Homo sapiens: one gene and its partners. The protein of the gene in region 2 purifies or fractionates together with the protein of the main gene of each other region. This does not show direct contact. Each region holds a gene or a part of one and is shown on either strand. Other genes may lie near its edges.

Region 1 (7,024 bases), on a different chromosome or scaffold from region 2:
GGAGCACAGCCCGTCTTACCCCTGGGACTCCCAGCGCCCAGCACGGAGCCTGGGATGTTAGAGCGCTGGGTCAAGGCATGTTGAGAGAAGCACGGGCAGTTTGGGGGCCTTGGAATCAGCCTGACGCCAGCGAGTTCCTAACCCGCCGTCTGGCCTCCAGTTTCCCCTCTGCACAATGGAAAGCCTGCTCTCCACGGTAGAGGTGACAGGGCGTGGCTAGGCAGATTTGTCACACTGCTGTGGTCTTTGTCAGAAGAAAATCAAAATGAGAGGGCCCAGTTAGGGGCAGAAGGAGAGCAGTTAGAATTTGCCGAAGGTGTGGGGGCTGGAAGAGGTAAGGTGATGTGTAGGGGCTGGATGTCCTGGGCCAGGATATCGGGAGGCTTTACTCTTCCCCACTCCCACTAACCGGAGGTCCCGAGAGGAACGGGGTCTGGGCTGCTCCCTGCCACCTGTCAGCAGGTCAAGCCTTCCACCGGAAACTGCCCCTTATTCAAGAATTTAGCTTCTCTCAAAAACTCCGAAACCCCTTTTCTCTCTCTCTCTCTCTCTCTCTTTTTTTTTTTTTTTTTTCAATGCTCCTGGCCTTGGACCCAGCACCCAAAGACATGGATTAGCCCTATCCACTAGGACAGAGCATTGCAGACCCACTAAGCCTTGGAGAGAGAAAAGGATCTTGTTCATTCTTAGTCCCCAGAATGACCAAGACAAACCCCGTTAGCCAAACCCCTAAAAAACTGTTTGGCTTAGGTTAGATTAGCTCCAAGTGTTTGACCTTGAAGGGGAACACCCCACCCAGAGTCTTAACTATCCTTCTCTGGAAGGATTCTTCAGGCAATCTGAATTCTTCCCCCGAAGGGCGCCCCTCAGACAAGGCTCCCTACCCAGCCCAGTTCCCTGCTTCTCAGATAAGCATTGATTCCTGTCATCCCAGTGGGTATTTGGTGGGTAGGGGTGAGAAGGAAAGAGGGATGAGAAAAGCAAGGCCTCTGCCTTGTCAGACTGGGATGACAACCTTTCTCCACTCATGTCCCCTTTTCTGCAGGTCATAGGATTAGAGCAGGCCCTGGGGCTGGAGTCCAAAATGCTTGTGTGGAATGTTTTGCCCTTGGCTTCCTCTGCCAGTATCTCTCCTTGTGTCCTCTTTCCTCTTTCCCTTGTGTGAGCCATTCTTGTTCCACTGACTTATTTCCTCTGTACATGTTAAAACAGAAATGACAGGGACTTTCTATTTCTGCCTCTACCTTAAGCCAGTCCTCTGTGTTCAGCCTACATGAACTTGAGTTGAGGAGGGAAACCAGGCAGGATCTAGTGAGGACCAGAGCCAAGGGCTCTGGGTCAGGGAAGAGGCTTGAGAGGCAGTCTATGTGTGAAGGATAGTGGAGAGGCCAAAGGAAAGGAAAGGATTGAGAACATAGGTGCCAAGGGGCAGAGCCCCCATTTCTACCTTTCCTCACCCCAGTTCCTCTCTGCCTAAGATCCTCAGCCTCATTACTCACCTCTGCTCTAGTTTCCCAAGTTTCATGCACAAATCCCTGGGACAACTCAGGGAAGATGAACTGGGATGGGATTACTAAGACCCCCTTCCTCTTGCCTTTCTGCCACTTCACTTGGGGTGTGGCAAAGGGAGTTTGGAGCAGTGCGTTTATTGGTAGGAAGGTCAGGGACTCTCAGCTAGGTTCAAGGAAAGTCTTAGCTTAGAACACCTCATGGCAAGGTCTACCTAGGTTGCGAAATCAATGCCAGGAATACAAACAAGTAGTATACCCTCAATACTAACAGCCCATCTAACATCCCAGGCTCCGTGCTGGGCGCTGGGAGTCCCAGGGGTAAGACGGGCTGTTAGTATTGAGCCCGGGAAGTTAGCAATATCTAACAAAGCTACGTACACATTTACCCAGCAATCCTACGTCTAGGAATTTATCCAGAAGGTGCTCATTCACAAATATGGAAAGCTACGTACAAGGTGATTTTTGTTTGTTTGTTTGTTTGTTTTTTGAGACAGAGTCTCGCTCTGTCGCCCAGGCTGGAGTGCAGCGGCGCGATCTCAGCTCACTGTAAGCTCTGCCTTCCGGGTTCAAGCAATTCTCCTGTCTCAGCCTCGTGAGTAGCTGGGATTACAAGTGCTAGCCACCACACCGGCTAATTTTTTGTATTTTAATAGAGATGGGGTTTCACCGTGTTGCCCAGGCTGGTCTCAAACTCCTGAGCTCAGGCAATCTACCTGCCTGAGCTGGGATTATAGGTGTGAGCCACCAAGCCCAGCCACAAGGTGGTTTTTAAAGGCATATTTACAATAGGAAATCATTGGAAACTATCCAAATGCCCATTCTTTAAAAAATGGTTAAACAAACAATGGTACAGTCCATACAATAGAATCCTAGGTAGCCAAAAAGAAAAAAAAAAGAATGACTAGGAGCCCTGTGAACTTATATGACATGATTGTTAGGATATATTATTAAGTGAAAAAACCAAGACATAGTACAGTATATAGTATGCCACCTTTGGGATAAGAAAGCAGGAGAAGTAAGAAATTTTTTTTTTTTTGAGACAGAGTCTCGCTCTGTTGCCCAGGCTGGAGTGCGGTGGTGGGATCTCGGCTCACTGCAAGCTCTGCCGCCCGGGTTCACGCCATTCTCCTGCCTTATCTTCCTGAGTAGCTGGGACTACAGGCGCCTGCCACCACGCCCGGCTAATTTTTTGTATTTTTAGTAGAGACAGGGTTTCACCATGTTAGCCAGGATGGTTTCGATCTCCCGACCTCATGATCCGCCCACCTCAGCCTCCCAAAGTGCTGGGATTACAGGCGTGAGCCACCACGCCTGGCCTAATTTAAGTACTTTTTAACCTTCATTCCCTGATTCTATATTCATATTTTAAGTAAAAAAAAAAAAAAAAACCACCTACAAAGAAATCTTGACCTTTACTTTGTAGACATGTTATTGGTTGTGGTATTTGTGTCATAAATTGGAAACTGTTTCGTTTATTGTATGATAGATGAAATGAGTAACTATGGTGATATTTCTGGAAATCAGGGTCTCACTATGGAAAAAGAGAGATATAAGTATGGAATGGGGGAAGGGGAAAAAGAATCTTTCGGGGTTTTTTTGTATATCTTGTGGGTCTGTCCACTGAAAGGACTGTGGAAAGGAACACACCTAGTACCTGGATTTTTATTTCTAAGTACAACTTCCCACGGGGGAGGTTGTAAGGAACAGTGCTCCTTGAAAAAATGACTAATTTCAAGTCTGAGACTGGGAAAGTATAAGTGAACTGTGTTGTGCCAGAAACTAGAGCATGCTCATGTCATGACATGTTGTCACAGGAGCTGGCTTAAAGGGTCTCCCGCCAACCAGAGGTGAAACACATTAAGCATTCCAAAGGATAATGGTAATAGATTGTAACACATTGAATATTAAAAATTCCTTGAGTCTATTTTGACAGTTGACATGGACAGGGAGGAGCAGGGAGGGAAAACTCTGAACAGAAATGCCAACGAGGCCAGACACAAGGCCTCACTCTGTAATCCTACCACACTGGGAGGCCAGGGCAGGAGGATCGCTGGAGCCCAGGCGTTTGAGGCTCCCATGAGCTCTGATCATGACACTGCACTCTAGAATGGGTGATAAAGCAAGACTCAGTCTCAAAAAATTAAAAAGTAAATGCCAGTTGGGCGCAGTGGCTCATACCTGTAATCCCAGCACTTTGGGAAGCCCAGGCAGGTGGATTACTTGAGGTCAGGAGTTTGAGACCAGCCTGGCCAACATGGTGAAACCCTGTCTCTACTAAAAATATAAAAATTAGCCGGAAATCGATTGAACTCAGGAGGCAGAGGTTGCAGTAAGCCAAGATTGTGCCACTGCACTTCCAGTGGGAGACAGAGCGAGACTCCATATCAGATAAATAAATAAATAAATAAATAAATAAATAAAGTAAATGCCAACTAATAAAATCTAGTAGTAATGACAAGATTTTTCTTTAAATTTAATTTTATGTGAGGCTGAGGTGGGTAGATCACCTGAGGTCGGGAGTTTTAGACTAGCCTGACCAATATGGAGAAACCCCGTCTCTACTAAAAATACAAAATTAGCCGGGCGTGGTAGTGCATGCCTATAATCCCAGCTACTCGGGAGGCTGAGGCAGGAGAATCGCTTGAACCTGGGAGGCGGAGGTTGCAGTGAGCCAAGATCACACTATTGCACTCCAGCCTGGGCAAGAAGAGTGAAACTCCGTCTCAAAAAAAATTTTTTTAAATTTAATTTTAATAGAAAAATACTAGTTTCATATATGTATGGGGTGTAATGTGATGTTTTGATATATGCATACATTACGGAACGATTAAGTCAAACTATCAACATATCCATCACCTCACACATTTATCGTTGTTTTTGTAGTGTAAACATTTAAAATCTCTCTTAGCAATTCTGAAACATGCATTACATTAACTATAGTCACCATGTAGTGCAGTAAATCTCAGAAACATTCCTTCTGTCTACTGAAACTTTGCATCTTTTAGCCAACATTATCTTTATTTACCTACCTATTTTTAGAGATAGGGTCTCACTCTGTCAGCCATGTTGGAGTGCAGTGGCCCATAGCCTTGAACTCCTAGGCTCAAGCGATCCTCTTGCCTCAGCCTCCCAAAGCACCAGGATAATGGGTGAGACACAGTGCCAGACTGGAACTTTAAATTGACCAGTTTGCAGCCTCTACTATAATAGCTGATTTAGTCTAGCGTTTAATGGATACTAAAACCACTGGGTGAAAGATTGGTCTTAGCATATCTTAGTTTGGGCTGCTAAAACAACATCATAGACTGGGTGGCTTAAGCAACAGAAATGCATCTCTTTGTTTGTTTGTTTGTTTTTGAGACCGGGTCTTGCTTTATCATCCAGCTGGAGTGCAGTGGCACAATCACAACTCACAGCAGCCTTGATCTCCTGGGCTCAAGCTATCCTCCCACCTCAGCCTCCCAAGTACCTAGGACTACAGGCGCATGCTATCATGCCTGGCTAATTTTCATATTTTTTGTAGAGACGGGGTTTCACCGTGTTGTCCAGATTGGGCTCGAAATCCTGGGCTCAAGCAATCCACCTGCTTCAGCTTCCCAAAGTGCGGGGATTACAGGCATGAACCACCGCACCCGGCCCCATTTATTTATTTATTTATTATTTTTTGAGATGGAGTTTTGCTCTTGTTGCCCAGGCTGGAGTGCAATGCTGCAAACTCAGCTCACCGCAACCTCCGCCTCCTGATTTCAAACGATTCTCCTGCCTCAGCCTCCTGAGTAGCTGGGATTACAGGCATGTACCACTACACCCGGCTAATTTTGTATTTTTAGTAGAGACGAGGTTTCTCCATGTTGGTCAGGCTGGTCTCAAACTCCCAACCTCAGGTGATCCACCCTCCTCAGCCTCCCAAAGTGCTGGGATTGCAGGTTTGAGCTATCACACTCAGCCCCCATTTATTTTTGAAACAGGGCCTTGTTCTGTCACCCAGACTGGGGTGCAGTGGTGCAGTCATAGCTCACTGCAGCCTCAAACTCCCAGGTTCAAGCAATCCTCCGACCTCAGCCTCCCAAGTAACTGGAGCAGGTGCATGCCACCATGGCTGGCTAATTTTTTTGTTGTTATTGTTGTTTTGTTTTTTTGTAGAGATGGATGACATAGGAAGACTCCACCTCTACAAAATAAAAAATTAGCTGGGCATGGAGGCTGTGCACCTGTCTGTAGTCCTAGCTACTCAGCAGGCTGAGGCAGGAGGATAACTTGAGGCTGCAGTGAGCCGTGATCATGAAACTATACTCCAGCCTGTTGACAGAGTGAGACCCTGTCTCAAAAAAAAAAGGTGAAACTAAGTAAAGGGTCTGCAGTTGTTTATTGTGCTATTTTTTTCAACCTTTCAGGTTTGAAATTTTTCCAAATACTTAGCCAGAGAGAGAAGTCCATGCCAGAGGCACTCCTAGATTCCTGGTTTCTTCTCACTTTATCTGCAAAACTCCTGACCAATAGGAGTGTCTTTTCTAAGCTCTTGGGTGCTGAGAGTCCCCATGGAGCACACAGAGGGATCTTCTAAGAAAGTAAGGTCCTTTAGGAAGCCTACCTTCCCACCCTCACTGCTCCCCACCCACAGCCTCTCCTGTCCAGACAGGAGCACCTGGGCCCTGATGAGTGGGCCACAAAGGGAGGTAGGATGACAGGCATTCTCCCACCATGCCATGGGGCCAGCTGAGGGAACCTGGGGACTGAGGGCTTCCAGAGTCACCCACCTAACTTTTGAGGAGACAGGTCCCAGGCTGTAAGAGAAGAAATTCACCAAACAGCCCAGAGATTGTTGCTGACCAAACCTTTAGTGTCCCTTAGAATTCTCTAATTAGGTGATTCTGAAAGAAACCAGCAAGCAGTGCCTGCCTGGAGCCTTCATGCCTGAGCTAAGCAAGGCCTTCTAGGCACTCCCTTGGCAAGGGCAGCACACCTGGCTGTCCTGTCATTGACCCAAATCATTGTGCTACCCACCCCCGCCTCCCCATCCTGATCGTCGCTCTGGAGAGAGATTGAGTTTCCAGGATGGCTTCTCTCTCTCTTTTTCTCCCTCTCTTCTCCTGGAAACCCTGGGGCTAGGCCCTACATGACTCAGGGCTCTTTTTACGTAGGCTCATGTAGGTGACGGCTATTAATCCTTTAGTCAATTCCCCTTCTGTGTTGGTGAGGGAGCCTGAAAGAGCGGGAGCCAGGAAGTTGGAAGGGGGCAGACAGGGAGGAGTTTGTTCTAGTGGGCTGCCAGGCTTGCCAGAAGAGCACGGGACTGGGAGTCAGAAAACTGGTAATCTGGACTCTTGTCTGCTGTGTAACCTTGATTGAAGCAGGGGATATCTCTGGGCCTTCATCAACTGCACTGTTACATGAAACCAAGTTTGGACATACAGACATTCCTGATTCAAGACCCTCCTCTTCTATAGAAGACAAAGGAGTAAAACTCTCAATGCCCAAACCAAACTCTTTTATCACAGATAGAGTCTAGCACA
Region 2 (7,024 bases):
AAAAACTTCTGGCTGGCAGGGGGGCTGTGGCTCATGCCTGTAATCCCAGCACTTTGGGAGGCACAGGCAGGAGGATCACTTTAGTCCAGGAGTTTGAGACCAGCCTGGGCAACATAGGGAGACCTCATCTCCACAAAAAATTCAAAAATTAGCCAGGCATGGAGGTATGCGCCTGTGGTCCCAGCTACTTGGAAAGCTGAGGCAGGAGGATCACCTGAGCCTGGAAGGTTGATGCTGCAGTGAGTAATGATCACGCCACTGCATTCCAGCCTAGGCAACAGAGTGAGACCCTGTTTCAAAACAAAACAAACAACAGAAAAACACACTAACTTTTGAAAAGTCCATTTCATTTCATATTCATTTCCATATTTTTCTCTCATTGAGCTTCTAAACAAGCACAGTACTATGTAAGAAAGAGATCATTTCTGTTTTTGAGTACCCTCTCAACCAGCTCTTTGTCCTACTTATAATGGTTCTGACGATGAGTGCAAATAACTCTATTCTTCCGCTAGTTTCATTAAAATCATCTTAATACTAAACCTATGCTTTCTTCCCTGTGCTCTAGGCCATTGCTCTTTGATACAGCCCATCCATCTTTGGAGACTGCCTAATTCCCTTACTTCATTTACACTGCTACCTTGAAAGTATTAATAGATAATCACATCCCCCTAGTGCTCCCTGTTCCTAAGTTTAGCTCCTTCAGGCTTTTCTCCTAAATCTTAAGCTACCATCAACATAGATTCTATGTCTCTTCCAAAATGTGGTTAGAAAGTATTCTTATTTGGAGTTCAATCCTAGTAGAAAACAGTAATGCTGTTAGGTTAGCACCATACTTTTGATACGTGATCACTATGTTATTTGTGTAAGGGTAATTCAATGACAGTTCACTGCAAGCTATTTGAAACCTCTTTATACTTGCTTTTTTCCAGGTAGCAGTTTCCTGGTTTGCATTAAGGCCATTTATTTCATCTCCCTTGATGCACGATTTGAGATTCAGCATTAATGAATATAATTTCAATGCTGGAGCTCCTTGTGCTATTTTTTTCCAGTTGTTCGGCAATGATTCCCAAACCTGCTAAACTCGTATAATCAAAAAAATCCCAAGTTAAATTTAACACATTCCTTCAATCTATGAATTTAGAAGTTTTTCACAGATAGTTGCCAACAAAGGAGGACATCTTGTTGCCTTTTTTTCCTCCAGGAAGCAGTGTCTAAAAACTAGGAAATAATCCCACTACTCTAGGATCTTAAACATGAACGGCAGATGATTCTTTAGTGATGGTTCTGCTTACCCTCTCTCTCTCTTCCCTTGGCCAGTATTCAAGTCAATCTGTACTCAACAGAAATGTGCCTCAGACTACAGCAACCAAGTAAAGCATTTGGCTTAGAATAAACATTAGTACTCCCAGCCCTGCAAACTCAAAGGCTCAGGAATAAGGAACACAAGGTCTAATTTAAAAGGAAGGTCAACTGAATATACTGGAAAAGTTATGTCTTGATTATATTCAAATTACTGTGGCTTCCCCTTTTTCTAAAGTTCTAAAAGGAAAAAAAATCGCTATATATAATGGCTAATGTATAAATCCAAAATGTTTTATTTTCTTTACTCATAATGACTAATAACAGTATATGCTGATATTACTGATAAATGTCTAGTGAAAATCCTTGTGTTAACAAAAATCATAATTATTCCAGACTAACATGGCATGTAAAAAATAAACAAAAGCCCCAAACTACTCCATACCTGAAAATGCTGTTTTTCAAACTGAGTTTCACGGCCCATGAATTGTGAATTCAATTTAGAAGGTCACTATGGTTCTCTTAACTACCTCACACAGATTAATAATAGGTAATGTTTCACAAGATATTACATATTTGTGTAATTTTGTTATAAATTTCTATTAGTCAAAAACTACTTCTCTATCTGGGTCACAGACAAAAAAGTTTGAAAGCCTTTTTCTAAAGAGCTTTTTTTTTTTGAGACGGAGTCTGGCCCTGTCACCCAGGCTGGAGTGCAGTGGCATGTTCTCGGCTCCCGGGTTCACGCCATTCTCCTGCCTCAGCCCCGAGTAGCTGGGACTACAGGTGCCGGCGACCACCCCTGGCTGATTTTTTGTATTTTTGGTAGAGATGGGGTTTCACCGTGTTAGCCAGGATGGTCTCGATCTCCTGACCTCGTGATCCGCCCACCGCAGCCTCCCAAAGTGCTGGGATTACAGGAGTGAGCCACCGCGTCCGGCCAAGAGCTTTATTTTTCAAGTAATTTCAACATGATTACATGTGAACCAAATATTATCTTTTACTCATATAAACTAACCCCTACTGACTACATTTCAGGTCCTAGAAAATTCTAGTTTGCAATGTAATTTTTAGGTTATTTTTAAATTAATAAGTAGCAAGGGTGTAGCTGAAACTAGATGATGAATACACAGGGGTTTATTCATTACTTAATCTATTTTTGTACATGTTTGAAATTCTAAAGATCTAAAAGAAAAAAAGGAAAAGAAATGGACCTAACAGATAACAAAGTAGTACCATGAATGTTTACAACTTGAGACCTTTAAACACAATGTTTCTAAGGAATAACAATCAAGGAACTTGCTAGGATTTAATTCAGTTAACACTTGGGGTTGCCTTCTTCGACTATAATGGACGGATTTCCAGGTCTTAAAAAATGCATAAGGGACTGCAGAAACTAACTCATATATAGAAAACAAACTTTCTCGAAAGATAACATAAAAATACAAATAGTTAAGTGTGTTTCATTGTCTCTTTATTAGTCAACCACTTTCAGCCAACAGAAAGATCATAAAATACCTACCTACCTGGCAGGAATATTCACTTCTTTATTCACACTGGCAATTTTCCCAGCAAGTTTAATATAAGATCTCTGCATAACAGACACGGTTCTGCCTCCCTTGAAACAAGAACTGCAAGGGTTGTCTGAAGTAGATTTAGAGGCATTTAGATTTCAAAACAGTGCATGCCTCAAAGTTAATTTTCATTATATTCAAAAGTAAGTTTCTAAAAACTTTTAAACAGAAAGTGTTATCATCTCTGAGCCTTTAACCTATTGGAGACAGTATCTAAGCTATAAGGGCAAGATATTTAGTAATTTTTAGAACTGAAAGGAAATTTAGACATCATCTAGTCCAATGGTTTCCAAATCCTACCATCAGGAAGAAAAGAATCTCAAAGGCATAACAATTTATATATGCAAAACAAACTCTTACTTGTGTGTTTTCCTGTATCTTCCTGCACATGAAATACTATGCCTTATTAGTATTCTATCAGGAAAGGATGTGACATTTCGTTATGCATTTTATATTTAATCACATTTAGTATGTGAGTATCCATTTAGATATGATTAAAACTATTGGTACGATTTGGGACTTAATGCTTTCTAATTATAGAAACTTACATAATATATCCAACCCTAATACTTTCAGAGTGATTTCATACCATCTCATTTATATTTCACTGTCTAGTAAATTTGAAGTAATACCTGGGTGACCGATGATTTTTAATAAGGCAAGAGAAGGATATCCAAATTGGCATATTTCAGCCGGGCACAGTGGCTCACACCTGTAATCACAGCACTTTGGGAGGCCGAGGTGGGCAGATCACCTAAGGTCAGGAGTTCGAGATCAGCCTGGCCAACATGGCGAAACTCCATTTCTACTAAAAATCCAAAAATTAGCTGAGTATGGTGGCTGGCGCCTGTAATCCCAGCTACTCAGGAAGCTGAGGCAGGGAGAATTGCTTGAACCCAGAAGGTGGAGGTTGCAGTGAGCTGAGATCATGCCACTGCACTCCAGCCTGGGCAACAGAGCAAGACTCCATCTTTAAAAAAAAATTGACATATTTCTGGAAAATACCATAAAGTATATCATAAAGCTCCAGTAGTTAAGATTATTTGGTAGGAAGGCTAGTCTTAAAACATTCCATAATTGTTTCAGAAATGCAAGAGAATACCATTTAGTGCTTTTTAGTACAAGAAACTCAATACAAAATGTTTCCCTCGAGCTGACTACATTCTATTTTAATGAACAGATAACACTCAGTTTATTTATTTGAAAAACAAGAAACACAACAAGAAAACAGCAGGTATCTGAGGAATATTAAATGTCTCCCCTAACTTACTGTGTGCAAGTAAATTTACATACGTAGGAAATTCTTTAAATATTTAGAAAACCCCATTTCTATACAGATAGACAAAAGTTCTGAGCAATCAGGTCAAAATAATCTCAAATTAATAAGAGTTGATTGATAAATGTTTGCCTTTGTACATACACAAAAGCAAACAAAAGTTAGGCCTACTTTCAGTTTCAGACAATATAATAAATTGAAATTAAATACAAATTTTGACTCTCCTTCCTAAACTGAATAGATCCTTAAAAAGCAGATATATTTTACTTGTGTATTCACTCTTTTAAATTTAGACATCAATATCACTAGAATAATGTTTTTACACAAGATCACTTTTAAATTCAGTAAGAAGTTTTGTTATGTATATAAGCCTAAAATATGTAACCATTTATAACCAATTAATTTTACTGGAGGGGTTTCCTGTCTTCCCGAAGTTAATCCTTACCAACTAAAATTAGGAATTTTGAAAAAAAAAATCCATAAAAATTTCACAAACAAGCTTACAAATGCATTATCTAAGGTGCTTAAAATTAAACTCCATATTATGAACAACATTTTAAAAATTTGTATAAAATGATAATGTTTTGTTTAAAGAGGCATACTGAAAGCTAAGCCAATTTTTCACAGGAGGTGATTCTCCAACATTATTTTAACTTTGATGTGTGAATTTACTTTAGAGGTCCCTGGTCTATTTACTCTTTCTGACAGCTTATATTTTTCCGGATGCTCCTCAAACAAAGATTCATTCCTCATTCTTGCATCCTGCTTTTCTCCTTGTACTACTGCAGCCTTTCTTCTGTCTTTCCCTTTCTCTTACAACTTCATTCTCTACTTCTGATCCTGTCCAGATTGTACTCTCACTGCAAACAGTAAATTGAATAGAATACATCAGAACGATTTTCATAAAATTCACTTTTCCAAAACTACTCTGCATAATTTTATTCAAACTTTTGTTGAACATCTCTTGTATGGTATCCAACATGGTCACTCACTGTTTCTCTACATACTTCATTTTAATAGATATTAGCACTTTATCTCCTTCCCGAATCGTTGTAAAAAACCTTTACACAGACCCAGCAAGTTTCAGAGTTTACACACAAAACATCTTACTTTTAAAAAGTACCTCAGACTAATGAAAAACAATGTTCAAACTGACAGAGCACTTTTCTAATTACATTTGGTCATCTTTCAAGGCCCAATTAAATCTTTTTTTAATTTAAATAATTATTTTTATTTAAACTTTATTTTAAAGTTAAAATAAAGATAATATAATGTTGCTTTTTATTAATGTCTAAAGGCATATTCCACAAAAGAAACTGTTTCACATCAAATCTGTATTAATGAGAAAAAACAATGGGATTCCCTTAAAACAGTCTAATTTCTCATAAGGATCTGTATTAATCAAGCGAAGTCAGACCTGTAATGAATTCCAACCTCACATCTAAGGGGTTTTATTTCCTTTTGTGGTTTTAAATCTTGGTATATTCACAAGTTAAGCTCTACTGCGTCTGGCAACACAAAAACCCATCTGTATCTCTTTCTAATTTGGATCCAGTAACCTTGTAAAACAAACCCAGGGAATGGGTCCTGATGTAGTAACATGGCCTATCCTCCCAGACCGAACCAATTTCTCATGCCTGGGTGCTGCATTATATCAGTAGTGACATTTTAGCCAGTAGCCTGAGAGACTGAAAGCCTGTGATCTCCTTAGGAAGGGCTTTATGTCAAGGCAAACTATTTCTTCTGGTCAAATCTTATTTGGATTATTTCAAAATTTTTTGCTTGACATTCGGCATGTCATTTGTGCCACAGCTGCCATAGATAAGATGTGTCTTCTGTTGCTCATTTCAGTTCAAAGAGGAAACACGCAATCAATTAGCAAATACACCTCTAAAAATGTACTCAGTGAGAGAAAATTGCTAAACCACTGAAGCAAACAGCCCTTGACAGAAAAGAAAAAGATCCATGAATCATCTAATGCAAATACTGGCATTATTACAAAGCACAATGTTCACAACTATCTAGTATCACCCAAACAAAATGGTTTCTAAAATTTAGGTCGTTAAAAATAAGATTCATTAGATTCCTTATTTTCCTCCATTGAACAGTGTTAATTTTGTGATGTCATATTTTCCATATGAATATATTACGTTTTTACACACCACTCCACATTCATTAATTCAGCTAACATCTATAACACTCCCACTGTGTGCCGGGTACCACACTCTATTTCTCTTATTCACAACAATAATACTCTATGAGAAAGTGATACCTGGCCCACTTGAAAGATTTGGTTCACAGAAAAAAAAGAAAAAAAAAAGCCATAAAGTCTCTCCCAGAAACTCAAATAAAAATATTAACTTCCTCACCAGAATTGGCAATTGCAGACACAGTGCAGCTGGTCACTTTTCTGAGAAAGTTACATAAGCAAAAGCACAAATCTCTATGTGGGGCCTTCAAATGGCCTATTTACCATGACAGCAGCATTAACAATCAAGTTTTCAATATACACATGAAGAAAAATAAATAAAAAATAATGCTCCTTTTTAAAGGATAGTAGTAATAGCTAACATGTACTGAGACTCAGGCTGAAATCTAAGCGGTCATTATCTCATTTAATCCTCACATCATCCCTAGGGAATGGACATGATTGTAATCTCCACTTTACAGATGATGAACTGATGAAACTGAAGTTTGCATTACTCAAGATCACTCAGCTACTGACAGCTGGAACTCAAACCTGAGTCTGTCACCGTCCAAAGCCTGCACTCTTGATCATCACATTATACTGCTTTGTTTACACTCACTCAATTGCAGTCTAATGCTTTTGAATGTCTTATAAGGTTACTTTTTAGAACAAGTTCCTCTTTAAACT
Region 3 (7,780 bases), on a different chromosome or scaffold from region 2:
GTAGAGTGAGCTGAGGCTCCTGAGAAGAGCCAACTAGAATGCATCAGGGCTCGCTTGGAACGGGAAGCAAAAGACAATTTGACAGACTGCCACAGATGTTCTATTATTAAGCAACAGGGAAATGCAGACTCATTCAATCCCAACTCTTCTGTCTTTTCTATTAAAAAGAAAACTTTCCATTCCAGAAAAAAGAACATGAGGGAATATAAGAGGAAACTGAAGTCTGAGACATTTGAAGAAACAAGAAAGGGTGCCTAAATGCTTTATGTTAGTTGAAGTCTTCAAATGCTGAATTATATTGCAAAGCAGTGCTCACCAACATTTTTCATATCATGACACATACAGAAAATACCAGTATTTGTAGGGTACACTGGGGTACTGGGAGATGGCCAGCTTCGGGGCTCTGGTTGCCCCAAACACCAAGGGAATCCATTTCTTGACCCTCCCGTAACAGTTCCCAGAGCCTTATATTTGGAACATAAGAGTTAAGAAGCTTATCTAGAATCCTAAAATAAAGGTAGACATGGTTACAGATTCACTAATAATCTTTTTTTTTTTTTTTGGAGAAAGGGTCTCGCTCTGTCACCCCCGCTGGAGTGCAGTGACACAATCACAGCCCACTGCAGTCTCGACTTCCTGAAGTCAAGCAATCCTCTGGCCTTGGCATCCCAAAGTGCTCGGATTACTGGCGTGAGCCACCACGCTCAGCCTGCAGAATGCGCTAACGATCTTTGAGGAAGAGATGCCAGCAAGCTTGATATGAAATGCTACCTGAATTTTAGAAAAGATTATACAGATGGTTTTTAAAACCATAAAGATGTGGCAAACACTGGACACTAACATACATTTATACATTCATAAAGAACAATGCAAGCCAAACCATCTTCGTAGTGGGTAGAATTGTGGCCTCTAAAAACATATGGCCATGTCCTACTCCTCTTCAGAACCTGTGAATGTGATCTTACTTGGAGAGGGATCTTTATAATTAAACATCTCAAAAGGAGATCATCCCAGATTCAGGGTGGGCCTAAAGCAAAGAGGAAGGCAGAGGGAAACATGAGACTCAGGGACACAGGGATGAAAACCACATTAAGACGGAGGCAGAGATTATAGTTATGCAACCACAAGCCAAGGAAACTGTTAGAGCTACCTTCTGGTCAGAGGCAAAGGATTCTCCCCCAAAGCCCTCAGAGGGAGCATGGCCCTGCCAACACTTTGATTTTGGACTTCTGGACTACGGAACTGTAAGAGAATACATTTCTGTTGGTTTAAGTCACCATGTTTGTGGTAATTTGTTATAGCAGGCTTAGAAACTAATACGTTCAATCCTCACTTCTTTGTTGATAGACAAAGGTTTGCAGGACGTGGGGGATGTTACAGAAATGGAATAGCAATGAATTTGTCAAAGCCATTATGATATTCTTGTGAATAGATAAATTAAAAACATTTGGGGCCAGGCGCAGTGGCTCACGCCTGTAGTCCCAGCATTTGGGGAAGCCAAGGCGGGCAGATCACGAGGTCGGGAGATCAAGACCATCCTGGCTAACATGGTGAAACCCTGACTCTACTAAAAATACAAAAAACTAGCCAGGCGTGGTGGCAGGCACCTGTAGTCCCAGTTACTTGGGAGGCTGAGGCAGAAGAATGGCATGAACCTGGGAGGTGGAGCTTGCAATGAGCTAAGATCGTGCCACTGCACTCCAGCCTGGGCAACAGAACGAGACTCCGTCTCAAAAAAAAAAAAAATTAAAAACATTTGGAGGAGCAACCACACCTCCCTTGGGGACTGAATTTTAGGTGAGATTTACAAGCTCACTCTGAAAAAGATTACTGCTCAGAAAAATCAAATTGCTTTTCCACCAGCATTGCTTTTCCTCGAGAGCAAGAATTTCTATACATTTGGTTCACTGCTATATCCCAGTGCCTACAACTGTGGCTAGCACATAACAGGAATGCCAGAAAGAGTTGCTGTAAGAGTTAACTCAGCAGGCCTGTGTTTACCAAACCCTGCACATTCCCAAGAAAGTCCTATTTTCATGACTGGCAGTTGGCTGCCTCCTGAGAATTGAGCAATTAGAATATTCTGCCTGATCAGAGTGTTTTTGCATACCTGAGGTCTTGAGCCACTGCTGTACCAAGTTTTCCCAGACAGTTTATACTAGCAATGTGATTGATGGTGAATACCTGCTTTTCACTGGAGGTCTAGAACTTGAATAACTAAGGTCAGTCTGTAGGCCTACATGACTGATAAGGGCTATATGCTGAGTCTTGGGTCCTGTGAGTCCTTTTGGCAAATCTGCAGGCCTGAGGATAGTCAGGCATTCCTGCCACAGTCTAAAGAGCTATTCACCTAATACTACAATACCAGGGGGTTCACCACGTATATATAAGCTAACCAACTCATTACCTTTGTGTTCTTGTTATGATCTGGCGTCAATTTTCTTTTTTTATTGCTGTGAAATTCTACCACTTCTACTTGTTCCCTATTGTTCTTTAGGGAAGAGGGAGGAACTGCAGCAGCAAGGATCTCTGGTCCTGTGGGGGTCCCAGAAGGAGCACAATGCCGCTCTTCTCTAAGTTCCTTGAAGAAGCTCGAAGCGCTCTTCCTCTGGCCTCTTATGAGAGAACCAGGTAGGGGAGATGGCTCTGCTGCCAAGGCCGCTGAAGCCATCACATCTCTCTTCTTGTTTTCCCTTTTCTTTATGATCTTCTTCTGTTCTGTTTCACCTTCTGTACCTCCTGTTTGTTCAAACACAAGAAGGAAAATAAATATTTTCAGTCTTAGCTATCATCAGTATCAAATCCTACGAATGTATTTGTACATATTCCAGGGCTATATGCACCTAGAAGCACACACAAAGAAATAAACTATTTGTTTTCTTTCAAATAAGTGTATTTGCAAAATGCAGAGAATCCAAAATGTAGTCATCTTTTCCTAGGTAACTATGTCTTTGACCCTTATTAGCACAATCACTTTAGTCTCCACTTTGGTTCCTACTCAAAGTGTCATCACAGCAATAGTCCCCAGGGCTGGTAATCCCAATTGGCTTTATACTAAAAATATCAGGCACTGCAGCCACTGTTTCTTTTTAACACTTTCTGGGTTACAGGAACATGGAATAGTCTTCCTATTTTCTTTCACAGTTAGGAATTAAGATGAACCTAAGACAACTGGCTCAATTTGAATGCCTTTGTTTTCTATTAATTCCTCTTTCTATATTTCACTTGTTGAAGCTCTGACCAGTCACCTGAAAGTTCTAACCAGAATCCTAGGCATCCTTACTCACATGTATTACAAATACCACAGAGCTCTCTAAATTACCAGCTGCTGATTTATGCTTGCTACTATTTGCTTAATCTTTTATACAATAAACATTTAAGAGCCAACTAAACTTTGGCATTAAGGATATAAAAATGAATAGACACATTCAATGCCTTCAGAGCTCCTACCATGATTTCCAGCCTGTGTTGACATGAACTATATTATTTTGCAGAATAGTCTTTTCCTCTAGATTTTAAACTTCTCAAGGTCAGAGACTAAGTCTTCTCTGTCCTCCAATATGTCCAAGGGCACAGAAATGCTAGTTAATACAAGCATGGGGTCTGGGGCTAGAATCAGAACCCAGGCTCTGCAAAAATTACCAGTCAGACAACCTGCATCAGGTTTCATGAACTTCTAGTACTTGTTTCTACATCTGCAATCATGGATTTATGACAGTGTCTATTTCATGAAGTTGAAAATTAAATGAGCAAATACACGAAAAGCATGTGCTATATGGCAAGTTCTCAACAGTTTTAACTATTATTCCTACTGTTTAGGTGAACTTAGAATTTTGAGCAGTCATTCCAAAATAAAAATAGCTTTTAAAATATCACGCTGTAAATTTAAGAAATGTGTGTTGTCCTGAAATCTAATGATTTTCTTTGGTGCATGTGCAAAGGGTGTCACCTTCTCCCGGGAAAGCTCTTCAGAGTATGAGGCACTGTCTTCCTACTGACATGCCATGCGACTTTAATAGGCTCTTTTATTTTCCTTTTCCCCCATCAAGACAAAGAACGGAGAGTAAAAGATCAGCGCACTTGTTTAAAAAAAAAAAAGTCGTGAAAAGGACAACTCGCCAAGGACTATGATGTCTCTGGAGAGGGACACACAAGGATGAAGCTGGTGTATTATCCAACAGGCCCGAGGCCCCAGAGCGAAATGACACCATCGCACCAGGGTCAGGCAGGTCTTGGGGGTGGCATGGGGAAAGGGGACTTCCCAGGGCTCAAGAAAACGTGGAAAAGCGGGCTACTTTTAAATCGGAAAGCCTTGGTGCTTCCTACAAGCAAGTAGGATGGTCCCCACACTTGGGGACGAGTTGGAAGGTTTGATGAATAACTCAGCAGAGCCCGGTCGAGGGGTGACTTCCGATGGAGAAATGTGTTCGCTACTGGAACCAGGTGGGACGAAGGGTGCTTGACATGCAAGAACCTTTAGCCTCAAAGCAGAGGCCAACCCAGGACGGGCAACACAGGAGACCCACGTTCCTCAAATCTGTTCTCCACGTGGGCTCCTGGGACCCCGCACTCACCAAAGTCGTAAAGGTTCTGGAGCAGAGCGTCAAGAAGTGTCGGAGAACTGGGAGGCGTGGAGGACCCCGGCCCTTGCTCCTGCGACATTGTGGGGTCAGCCGAGGAATCAACCCTCATTCTGCCGCGCTGCACCCCCGCTTCCGGGTTCCGCGACTGCGCGCATGCGCTGCAGGGCCCTGCGCGGCTTCCGTCCTGGCTGAGATGGCGGCGCCCGGGATCCTGTGTAGCGGCTGCAGAGGGTGCCGCCGCCCTAGGCGAAGTAGGGCCGTCCTGAGCGAAAGAACCGCCCCCAGCAGGAGCACCACCACGGCTTAGCAAAGAATCCCAGACCCCGCCCGGGAAGGCAGCCGCACCATGGAGTCTTCCAGTTCATCTAACTCTTATTTCTCCGTTGGCCCAACCAGTCCCAGCGCTGTCGTGCTCCTCTACTCGGTAGGCGCCCAGGGAAAAGAGGCCCAGAGCGGAGCCGCGCGAAATAGTACCCCTTTCTCCCAGTCCCTATTCCTCCGGCCCACCACCCTTGCCCAAAAGAGCTGGCCCCTAGGCTCCCGAGGAGGGGTTAGTTGGTTGGATTGGTTTCCAGGACAACAGTGTATCGCTGTGTGTCTGTGTGTGCATGCTTTTGGAAGTTTCTACGGATTATGGTTCCTTTGGTTCCTTTCCACTTTTTCCTTCTCTTTCTTTCTATCAGGCCCTGGGGCCTTCAGAAAGCTCCTGGACACGAGAATGAGGAATGAGAATTGGAGTCTCCCCATCTCTAGCGAGGGCATGTCGAGCTACCTTTTGGGCAAACCTGAGAAACTTGCGGGTTTGACCCGCCCTGAGATAGCCTGTGGCTCCGCACCCCGCCCTATGCTGCTGTTATATTCCTGGGAGTAGAGCACTTGGCTTGTATGTGGGAATAGAGTTTTAAACACTTCAGGAAAATTTAGAACTTCTAGACATTTTTATTGCCTGTTCTTGTCTTCCAGTCATTATTGTACCTTTTCCACAAATCATTTTGGAGGACAGCCAGCGCCACCCAGCTTCTCTCCCGCTTGTCTTTTTTTCCTCCAACCCCCTCTTCCTCTCTTGGTTTTAACGGGTCTTTTTGGCTGGCAGATGTTGGTCACCCACGATTTTCATGAAGAAATTATGAGATGGGAGCTTTATAGCCTTCAGGATTGCACAGACCTGGGGCAACTGGTTTGGTTTTTGTTTGTTTCTTGTTGTTTTTAACCACTAAATTAGTTTTTAGCTACTTTAGGAGAAAATGAAAGAATTCATTTTAAAAGCATATTAGCATATCCTGGTGATTACTGTCCAATTTTGGCTTAAATGTAGTGTTCATTTGTGCAGAAAGGTCAAAACAGGGATAACACAGCAGAGCAAGATAAACACCCCAGTTTTGAAAGAGAATATATGGGTTCCTTCAAATTGAGACACCAATATTCTTTGGAACATGGAGAAACTTCTGTTCCCTCTCTATCAAGACCTTTCGGTTTCTGATTGCTAACTGCCTATAAGCCTTATTATTTAGATATATCTCTTCATTGATCTTATCTTCCCCACAGTTCTGTGGTGGATATCAACTTTGTTTTCTGACTCTGCTACTCCAGAGCAGGCACGAAGGGAAGAGGGTTGCTGTGCAGATCCAGCTTTTAACATGTAGCTTTTTAAGCTCCCAACTGGTTTGTGAATTGGTTGGAATTTTCCTTTTGTACATTAAAGGAAGGAGTTGGTTTTGTTTGTTTGTTTGTTTGTTTTACTTCCCCTTTACCAACGGTTCTTTAATAAGACTTGAGTCCACTTTTTCATGTGAAAAACTATGGCAGTTGTATCTGAGCATTCTGTAGTTCTGATGCTGGACAGCAACCCACTCTTTACTGGTAGTTCTCACTACTGTTTTGTGACTGGATAACCTTTACTTCCACGGTAACCTTACTTTTTCTTAGTACTTCAGGCTGTTTTTATTTCCCCAGCTACGCTGTTATTGTGTAATATTCTGATCTAAAAGTAGCACTTTAGAAGCGTAGAAGATACTGCTGATTGCAGCAAACATTAGGAATATATACAGTATCCTACTCATTATTCTCAGTTTCCAAGATATAGAAGTTACAGATGCAGGCTCTGCCTTTAAGGGCACAAAAAGTCATAAAAGTAAACAAACAATCACAGTTAAGTATGGTAAGGGCAATGATTGAAGCATGCACAGCGTGTTGTGGGAGAGACAAGAAGGGGCACCTGACCAGTTTGGGAACTTGGAGAAGGTTTCTAAGAAAAGGTGATATCTAAGCTGATCTTCCTTTTTTGTTTTTGTTTTTGTTTTTGTTTTGTTTTGGAGACAGCCTTGCTCTGTTGCCAGGCTGGAGAACAGTGGCTCGATCTTGGTTCACTGCAACCTCCATCTCCGGGGCTCAAGCGATTCTCCTGCCTCAGCCTCCCGAGTAGCTGGGATTTTAGGCACACGCCACCCCGCCCTGCTAATGTTTGTATTTTTAGTAAAGACAAGGTCTCACCGTGTTGGCCAGGCCGGTCTTGAACTCCTGACCTCAAGTGATCTACTCACCTCCCAAAGTGCTGGAATTACAGGCATGAGCCACTGTGCCTGGCATGAGCTGAGTTTTTGAGCTGTGAATGGCAGATGAGGGAGAGGAAAACTGTCCTAGATGTTGATGTAAAAAAAACTACTCCCTTGCATATTTGGGGTTAGAATTAGTTAGATTTGGGTGGAAGAAAGGAGACATGAGAAACAAAGTAAGGAAGTAGGCAGATATTTCCTAAAGAAATTTTATGTGTCGTGTTTACATATCCTTAGGGATAAAATCTTAACTTTATGGGAGATTTTAATCTTACATCTATGTGTGTGTGTGTGTATACACATATATATATAAATATATGTGTGTATATGTATTTTTTTTTTGACATGGTGTCTCACTCTGTCACCCAGGCTGGAGTGTAATGGCACAATCTTGGCTCACTGCAACCTCCACCTCCAGGGTTCAAGAGATTCTCCTGTCTCAGCATCCCAAGTAGCTGGGATTACAGTTGCCTGCCACCACACCCGGCTAATTTTTGTATTTTTAGTAGAGTCGGGGTTTCACCATGTCGGCCAGGCTGGTGTCGAACTCCCGGTCTCAAGTGATCCACCTGCCTTGGCCTTCCAAAGTACATTTATATTTTTGAAAGTCTGAGAAGACTATAGGTTTCTGGTGTGATTATCTGT
Region 4 (7,024 bases), on a different chromosome or scaffold from region 2:
TTCGCCATGTTGGCCAGACTGGTCTCGAACTCCTGACCTCAGATGATCCCCCGCCTTGGCCTGGGATTACAGGCGTGAGCCATTGCACCCAGCCACGTTTGATTTTTATAAATGCATTTGTTGTTCCTTTATTTTGGTTAAAAATACATAATATAAATTTTTTTTTTTTTTGAGATGGAGTTTTGCTCTTGTTTCCCAAGCTGGAGTGCAATGGCACGATCTCGGCTCACTGCAACCTCTGCCTCCGAGGTTCAAGTGATTCCCCTGCCTCAGCCTCCTGAGTAGCTGGGAGGGTGTGCGCCACCACTCTCGGCTAATTTTTTTTTTTTTTTGTAGTTTTAGTAGAAACGGGATTTCACCATGTTAGCCAGTTTGGTCACAAACTTCTGACCTCAGGTGATCCGCCCGCCTCAGCTCCCAAGGTGCTGGGATTACAGGTGTGAGCCACCGTGCCTGGCCAAAATGTGCTATTTTAACTCTAAGTTAACAGTGGCATTAAGTAGATTCACAATGTTATGTAGCCATCACCATTATCTCCACAAATATGTTCATCTTCTCCAAGTGAAACTCCACTCCCATCAAACACTAATTTCCCATTCTCCCTTCCTCTGTCTTCTGGTAACCACCATTCCACTTTCTGTTTCTGTGAATCTACTCTAGGAACTTGAATCTATGTGATTTTTTTTTTTGCATTATTATCTTAAGAGACAGGATCTGGCTTTGTCATCTAGGCCAGACTGCAGTGGTACAACCATAGCTACTGCAGCCTCGAACTCCTGGGCTCAGGCAGTCTTCCCACCTCAGCCTTCCAAGTAGCTGGGCCCACAGGCATGTGCAACCATACCCAGCTAAGTTTTAAATTTTTTGTAGAGATGAGGTCTCCTGTGTTGTTCAGGCTGGTCTCAAACTACTGTCCTCAGGTGATCCTCCCACCTTGGCCTCTCAAAGTGTTGGGAGGGATTACGGGCATTACCCACTGTACCTGCCTTCATCATATTTTTGTGTTTAAGTTTTGGGGTCATTAGATCATCAGAGCAAGATGGTGACTTGGCCTCTGGAAATCACAAATCTATTTTCTGTCTTTATGGATTTGCCTATTCTGAATTTCTAATATAAATGGTATCTTATAATACATGGCCTTTTGTGACTGGCCTCTTTCACTTAGCGTGATGCTTTCAAGATCAATCCATGCTATAGCATGTATCAGTACTTCATTTCATTTTCATGCCATATGATATTCCTTTTTGTGGATAGACCACAGTTTCTTTTTTTGGTTTTTTGTTTTGTTTTGTTTTTTGAGACGGAGTTATGCTCTTGTTGCCCGGGCTGGAGTACAATGGCGCAATCTTGGCTCACTGCAACCTCCACCTCCTGGGTTCAAGCGATTCTCCTGTCCCAGCCTCCCGAGTAGCTGGGATTATAGGTGCCTGCCACCACACCGAGCTAATTTTTTGTATTTTTAGTAGAAACGGGGTTTCACCATGTTGGCCAGGCTGGTCTTGAACTCCTGACCTCAGGTGATCTGCTTGCCTCGGCCTCCCAAAGTGCTGGGATTACAGGCGTAAGCCACCGTGCCCAGCCAGACCACATTTTCTTTAGCCATTTATCCTTTGATGGACACTTGGGTTGTTTCCAATTTTTGTCTCTTGTGAATAATGCTGCTATAAACCCTCTTATATATGTCATCGTGTGGACAGATTCATTCTCTTTTATGTTTGGGATACCTGTCTTTTATCAGATACATAGTTTACAAATATTTTCTCTCATTCTGTGGGTTATCCTCACTTTGTTGGTGGTATCATTTGCAGCACAAAAGTTTTCAACTTGATATTGTTCAATTTATTTATTTATTTTCTTTTGCAAACCCCCCACTAACAAGAAGACAAATTAACGGTTCAGTGAGAAAATAATCGGCCAGTATTTTTTTTTTTTTTTTTTTGAGACGGAGTCTCACTCTGTTACCCAGGCTGGAGTGCAGTGACGCAATCTTGGCTCACTGCAAGCTCCGCCTCCTGGGTTCACACCTTTCTCCTGCCTCAGCCTCCCGAGTAGCTGGGACTACAGGTGCCCACCACCACGCCCGGCTAATTTTTTTTTTTGTATTTTTAGTAGAGATGGAGTTTCACCTTGTTAGCCAGGATGGTCTCGATCTCCTGACCTTGTGATCTGCCCGCCTCGGCCTCCCAAAGTGCTGGGATTACAGGCGTGAGCCACCGTGCACGGCCAATCAGCCAGTATTTATTAAGCACCTACTTCTTGTAAAACCCTGGGTTTTACCTGTAAACACAAATTTTGAGAGAACATGAAGTAAAGGAGTCACCAAGGCCGCTTCCCAGCGTTTCTTCTTTGGGTTAAAGGATATCAGGGCAGGCCAGGTGCAGTGGCTCATGCCTGTAATCCCAGCACTTTGGGAGGCTGAGGCGGGTGGATCACCTGAGGTCAGGAGATCAAGACCATCCTGCCAACATGGTGAAACCCCGTCTCTACTAAAAATACAAAAATTATCTGGGCATGGTGGCACGTGCCTGTAATCCCAGCTGCTCAGGAGGCTGAGGCAGGAGAATTGCTTGAACCAGGAAGTCGGAGGTTGCAGTGAGCCAAGATTGTGTCACTGCACTCCAGCCTGGTGACAGAGCGAGACTCCCTCTCAAAAAAAAAAAAGATATCAGGGCAGAAAAGGGCAGAGGCCCTGAGTTAAGAAGACAGAGCTGGCACAGGCAGGGGAAGGCCAGGACTGGCAGAACACTGAAGCAGCAGGCACCTGCTTCCTTCTGTTGTCTGTGCAGAAACTGCTCTTTGAGCGCGGGAAGGAGGCCCTGGAGTCCGAATTTCGCAGCCTGATGACGCGGCACAGTAAGGTCGTCTCGCCCGTGCTCATCTTGGATCTGATCAGTGGTGACGATGATCTGGAGGCCCAGGAGGACGTGACCCTGGAGCACCTGCCCGAGAGCGTGCTCCAGGATGTCATTCGCATCTCCCGCTGGCTGGTGGAATATGGCCGCAACCAAGGTAAGGGATTCTGGCTTGGCCACATGACACACCAGAGGCAGAGGGAGTTTTCTCCCCTTTGTTCTTTTTTTTTTTTTTTTTTTTTTTTTTTTGAGATGGAGTCTTGCTCTGTTGCCCATGCTGGAGTGCAATGGTGCAACTCGGCTTGCTGCAGCCTCTGCATACCCGGGTTCCAGCGATTCTCCTGCCTCAGCCTCCCGAGTAGCTGGGATTACTGGCGCATGCCACCATGCCTGGCTAAGTTTTGTATTGTTAGTAGAGATGGGGTTTCACCATGTTGGCCAGGCTGGTCTTGAACTTCTGACCTCAGGTGATCTGCCCACCTCAGCCTCCCAAAGTGCTGGGATTACAGATGTGAGCCACCATGCCTGGCCCCCTTTATTCTTTAATCCACCTGTCATGGTTTTTTTGATAAAAGGATGTTTAACTGGAACCAATATAAGAATATAAGCAACCATTCTATGACTTGTATATCAAGTGGTGAATCTAGGCAAATTCAAACTTTTCTTGTCTTGATTTTTATGTTCCTTTGCCTTTTTTGATTAGTTGTAAAATTTTCAAAGCCATGGGTGAAAAGTAAAAGTCCATCTCCCATTCCCTGATGCCTCCATTACATAAGCCAAAGATGAGCACTATTAAGGTTTATTTATGCCAGGTGCTGTGGCTATGCCTGTAATCCTAACAGTTTGGGAGGCTGAGGTGAGTGGATCGCTTCAGCTCAGGAGTTCGAGACCTGGCCAACATGGCAAAACCCTGTCTCTACAAAAAATAAAAAAATTAGCTGGGTGTGGTGACGCATGCCTGCAGAGCCAGCTACTTGGGAGGCTGAGGTGGCGGGGAATGACTTGAGCCTGGGAGGTGGAGGTTGCAATGAGCTAAGATCACGCCACTGTACTCCAGCCTGGTTGACAAAGTGAGACTCTTGTCTCAAAAGAAAGAAGGCCAGGTGCAGTGGCTCATGCCTGTAATCCCAGCACTTTGGGGGGCCAAGGTGGGCGGATCACCTGAGGTCAGAAGTTCAAGACCAGCCTGACCAACATAGAGAAACCCCATCTCTACTAAAAATACAAAATTAGCTGGGCGTGGTGGCGCATGCCTGTAATCCCAGCTATTACTGAGGCTGAGGCAAGAGAATCTCTTGAACCCGAGAGGTTACAGTGAGAGTGCACTATTGCGCTCCAGCCTGGGCAACAAGAGCAAAACTCCATCTCAAAAAAAAGAAAGGAAGAAAGAAAAACTCCAATAGATATTCAGTGTTGCACTTTTTTTTTTTTTTTTTTTTTTGAGACAGAGTCTCGCTCTGTCACCCACGCTGGAGTGCAGTGGCATGATATTGGCTCACCGCAACCTCTGCCTCCTGGGTTCAAGCAATTCTGCCTCAGCCTCCCAAGTAGCTGGGGTTACAGGTGCCCGCCACCATGCCCAGCTAATTTTTGTATTTTTTGGTAGGGACAGGGTTTCACCATGTTGCCCAGGCTGGTTTTGAACTCCTGACCTCAGGTGATCCACCTGCCTCGGCCTCTGTAAGTTCTGGGATTGCAGGCATGAGCCACCTCGCCTGGCAATGTTGCACTTTTTAGCCCTCCAACTCTTCTCTTTGTTTGTGTGTACACATACCAAGTTGTCAGCGCGGGCTTGCCTTGCCCCAGAACTGTGTGGCGGCAGGTCTCACGGCCGCGATGTATCTGATCACATGAACACGTTGTGGCTCGTGAGCTGATGACAGCTCGGCAGAAGATTTTCAGGAGCTCCTTAGGATCAAGAGGGAGGCGCAGTGGACAGCCTCCAGACCTCTCAGCCTGTGCCTCTGTGTTTTGGTTCATTTCTTCTGTCGGGGTTCCTTGTAAACTATTTGTTGGGAACTTCTGAAATCCACCATAGTTTTCATGTCCTTTTCCTCAGTCATGTGTGCAAGGAGCTCTTCCTGTTTTTCAGCATTGATGAATGGTACCAAAATGGACATACCTTTGTGAATTGCTTTTTTCTTTGAGGAAGTTCTTGAGGGTTTATTCTCAAGGGTGCAGGGATTAGGTGTAAGTGTCTGAAGATACTTGTAACCTTCTTGCCATCACTAGCTCCTCTCTAAATAGATCAGGCCAATCGATGGACTCATCGACAGTTCCATGGCCATTTGTTCTTCATTAATTTTTGTTTTTGCTATCTGATAGGACTATCACAGTCCTCTAATTTTTTTAATTTATACTTTATTAATGGCTAAAGATGTGTGTTTTTCATTCACTGACATTTGTTGTCTTTTTGCTTCCTATAGAGCTCATGTTCTTTGACCCCTTACCAAGTTGAATCTGGATATTAACTTTGTTTTTTTATTTAAAAAAAAGTACTATTTAAAACTTACAACTAGGGCTGGGCGCCATGGCTCATGCCTGTAATCCCAGCTACTTGGGAGGCTGAGGCGGGAGAATCACTTTAACCCGGGAGGCAGAGGTTGCAGTGAGCCAAGATCGTGCCATTGTATTCCAGCCTGGATGACAAGAATGAAACTCTGTCTCAAAAAAAAAAAAAAGCTTACAACTAGGGCTGGGCGGTGGCTCATGCCTGTAATCCCAGCACTTTGGGAGGCTGAAGCTGGTGAATCATTTGAGGTCAGGAGTTCAAAACCAGCCTGGCCAACATGGTGAAACCCCATCTCTACTAAAAATACAAAAATTAGCTGGGTGGTAGTGGCTCATGCCTGTAATCCCAGCTATTCAAGAGTCTGAGGCAAGATAATTGGTTGAGCCTGGGAGGCAGAGTTTGCGGTGAGCCAAGATCACACCACTGCACTCCAGCCTGGGCGACAGAGTAAGACCTTGTCTCAAAAAAAAAACAACTTACAACTAATTATCAGTTCTATCAGAGGGTGTTTTTCTCTTTTAAGACTGCCTGGCCAGGCATGGTGACTCACGCCTGTAATCCCAGCACTCTGGGAGGCTGAAGTGGTCAGATTACTTGAGCCCAGGAGGTCGAGCCTGCAGTGAGCTGACATCGTGCCACTGCACTGCAGCCTGGGCAACAGAGCAAGACCCTATCTCAAAAAAAAAAAAAAAGACTTTGAAAGACTTTGCCTGATTTGGGACAAGATATGGGTGGCTTGTGACCAGAGCAGGGAGCAGATGCTAAGAAGGGTTGACAGGTTTGACAGGTAGACATGGTGGGTCTGCAAGGCAGAGACAGGGCCTGGCAGCCGTACCTCTATCCCTCTGTGTCTCCTCAGATTTCATGAACGTCTACTACCAGATACGCTCCAGCCAGCTGGACCGCTCCATCAAAGGACTGAAGGAGCATTTCCATAAGAGCAGTTCTTCCTCTGGGGTTCCCTACTCCCCTGCTATCCCCAACAAGAGGAAAGACACACCTACCAAGAAGCCAGTCAAGCGGCCAGGTGAGCCCCCATCCTGGCCCATCTCTGCAACAGCCAGAGGCTGACTGGGACTGTACTGCTTTAGTCCAATCTAGCGTTCGCAGCGTCAGGCCCCTCCAGAGCTTGTCGTCGTGGTAACCCCGACTGTAGGTACACAGGACAGAAAGCAAGTGTCTACCCACCCAGTGAAGCCCCCCAAGAGCAAGACTCTTCCTTCCAGCTAGCAGAGCCTGGGGTTACACAGCTTCTTTGGAGTAGGGGAGTAACACAGGTGCTCAGCGAATCCCGCCTGAGGCAGAGCCCCTGCCTAGGCCTCCTCCCTCACACACACGTCGCCCTGTCAGAAGGCCAGGCACACTACTGCAGCCAGGATGCTGGGATAGCAAGGGGATAGGTGCTCCAACCTTCACCTTCCAGAAAGGCAGGGTGATCTGAAGTGACGTGTAGCTGAGAGCTGGATGGGGAGAATTTCACTTTCCCAGTTGATCCAGAAAGGAAAGAAACCCCAGAGCATCCTCTCGGAAGAACTTAAACTGGCTTTGGGCTCCAGTGCGAGCGAGTGACTTGTGGAAAGGGGCACCATGATGAGAGGCCGGGGCCGGTGGGTGTTGCTGTCCTGGGTGAACATCTCGTCATCTGTCTGTTCTTTCTCCC

The links.
Region 1: the proteins of NPTN (region 2) and ATP2B4 purify together in Homo sapiens (co-immunoprecipitation; 3 studies listed by BioGRID and IntAct, with this or other methods). This does not show direct contact.
Region 3: the proteins of NPTN (region 2) and GNPAT purify together in Homo sapiens (co-immunoprecipitation; 2 studies listed by BioGRID and IntAct, with this or other methods). This does not show direct contact.
Region 4: the proteins of NPTN (region 2) and EXOC7 purify together in Homo sapiens (co-immunoprecipitation; 2 studies listed by BioGRID and IntAct, with this or other methods). This does not show direct contact.

Annotation. Positions count from the first base shown.
Region 1 is NC_000001.11:203,629,815-203,636,838, forward strand, and holds part of ATP2B4 (plasma membrane calcium-transporting ATPase 4), read left to right. Parts: intron 1-7,024. UniProt on the Homo sapiens protein: Calcium/calmodulin-regulated and magnesium-dependent enzyme that catalyzes the hydrolysis of ATP coupled with the transport of calcium out of the cell. By regulating sperm cell calcium homeostasis, may play a role in sperm motility.
Region 2 is NC_000015.10:73,623,390-73,630,413, forward strand, and holds part of NPTN (neuroplastin isoform b precursor), read right to left. Parts: intron 1-7,024. UniProt on the Homo sapiens protein: Probable homophilic and heterophilic cell adhesion molecule involved in long term potentiation at hippocampal excitatory synapses through activation of p38MAPK. May also regulate neurite outgrowth by activating the FGFR1 signaling pathway.
Region 3 is NC_000001.11:231,236,450-231,244,229, forward strand, and holds the start of GNPAT (dihydroxyacetone phosphate acyltransferase), read left to right. Parts: upstream 1-4,762; 5' UTR 4,763-4,929; coding exon 4,930-5,007; intron 5,008-7,780. Other genes in the region: FSAF1 (40S small subunit processome assembly factor 1), read right to left, coding at 2,408-2,739, 4,575-4,692. UniProt on the Homo sapiens protein: Dihydroxyacetonephosphate acyltransferase catalyzing the first step in the biosynthesis of plasmalogens, a subset of phospholipids that differ from other glycerolipids by having an alkyl chain attached through a vinyl ether linkage at the sn-1 position of the glycerol backbone, and which unique physical properties have an impact on various aspects of cell signaling and membrane biology.
Region 4 is NC_000017.11:76,093,781-76,100,804, reverse strand, and holds part of EXOC7 (exocyst complex component 7), read left to right. Parts: intron 1-2,728; exon of another isoform or gene 2,729-2,786; coding exon 2,787-3,009; intron 3,010-6,223; coding exon 6,224-6,391; intron 6,392-7,024. UniProt on the Homo sapiens protein: Component of the exocyst complex involved in the docking of exocytic vesicles with fusion sites on the plasma membrane.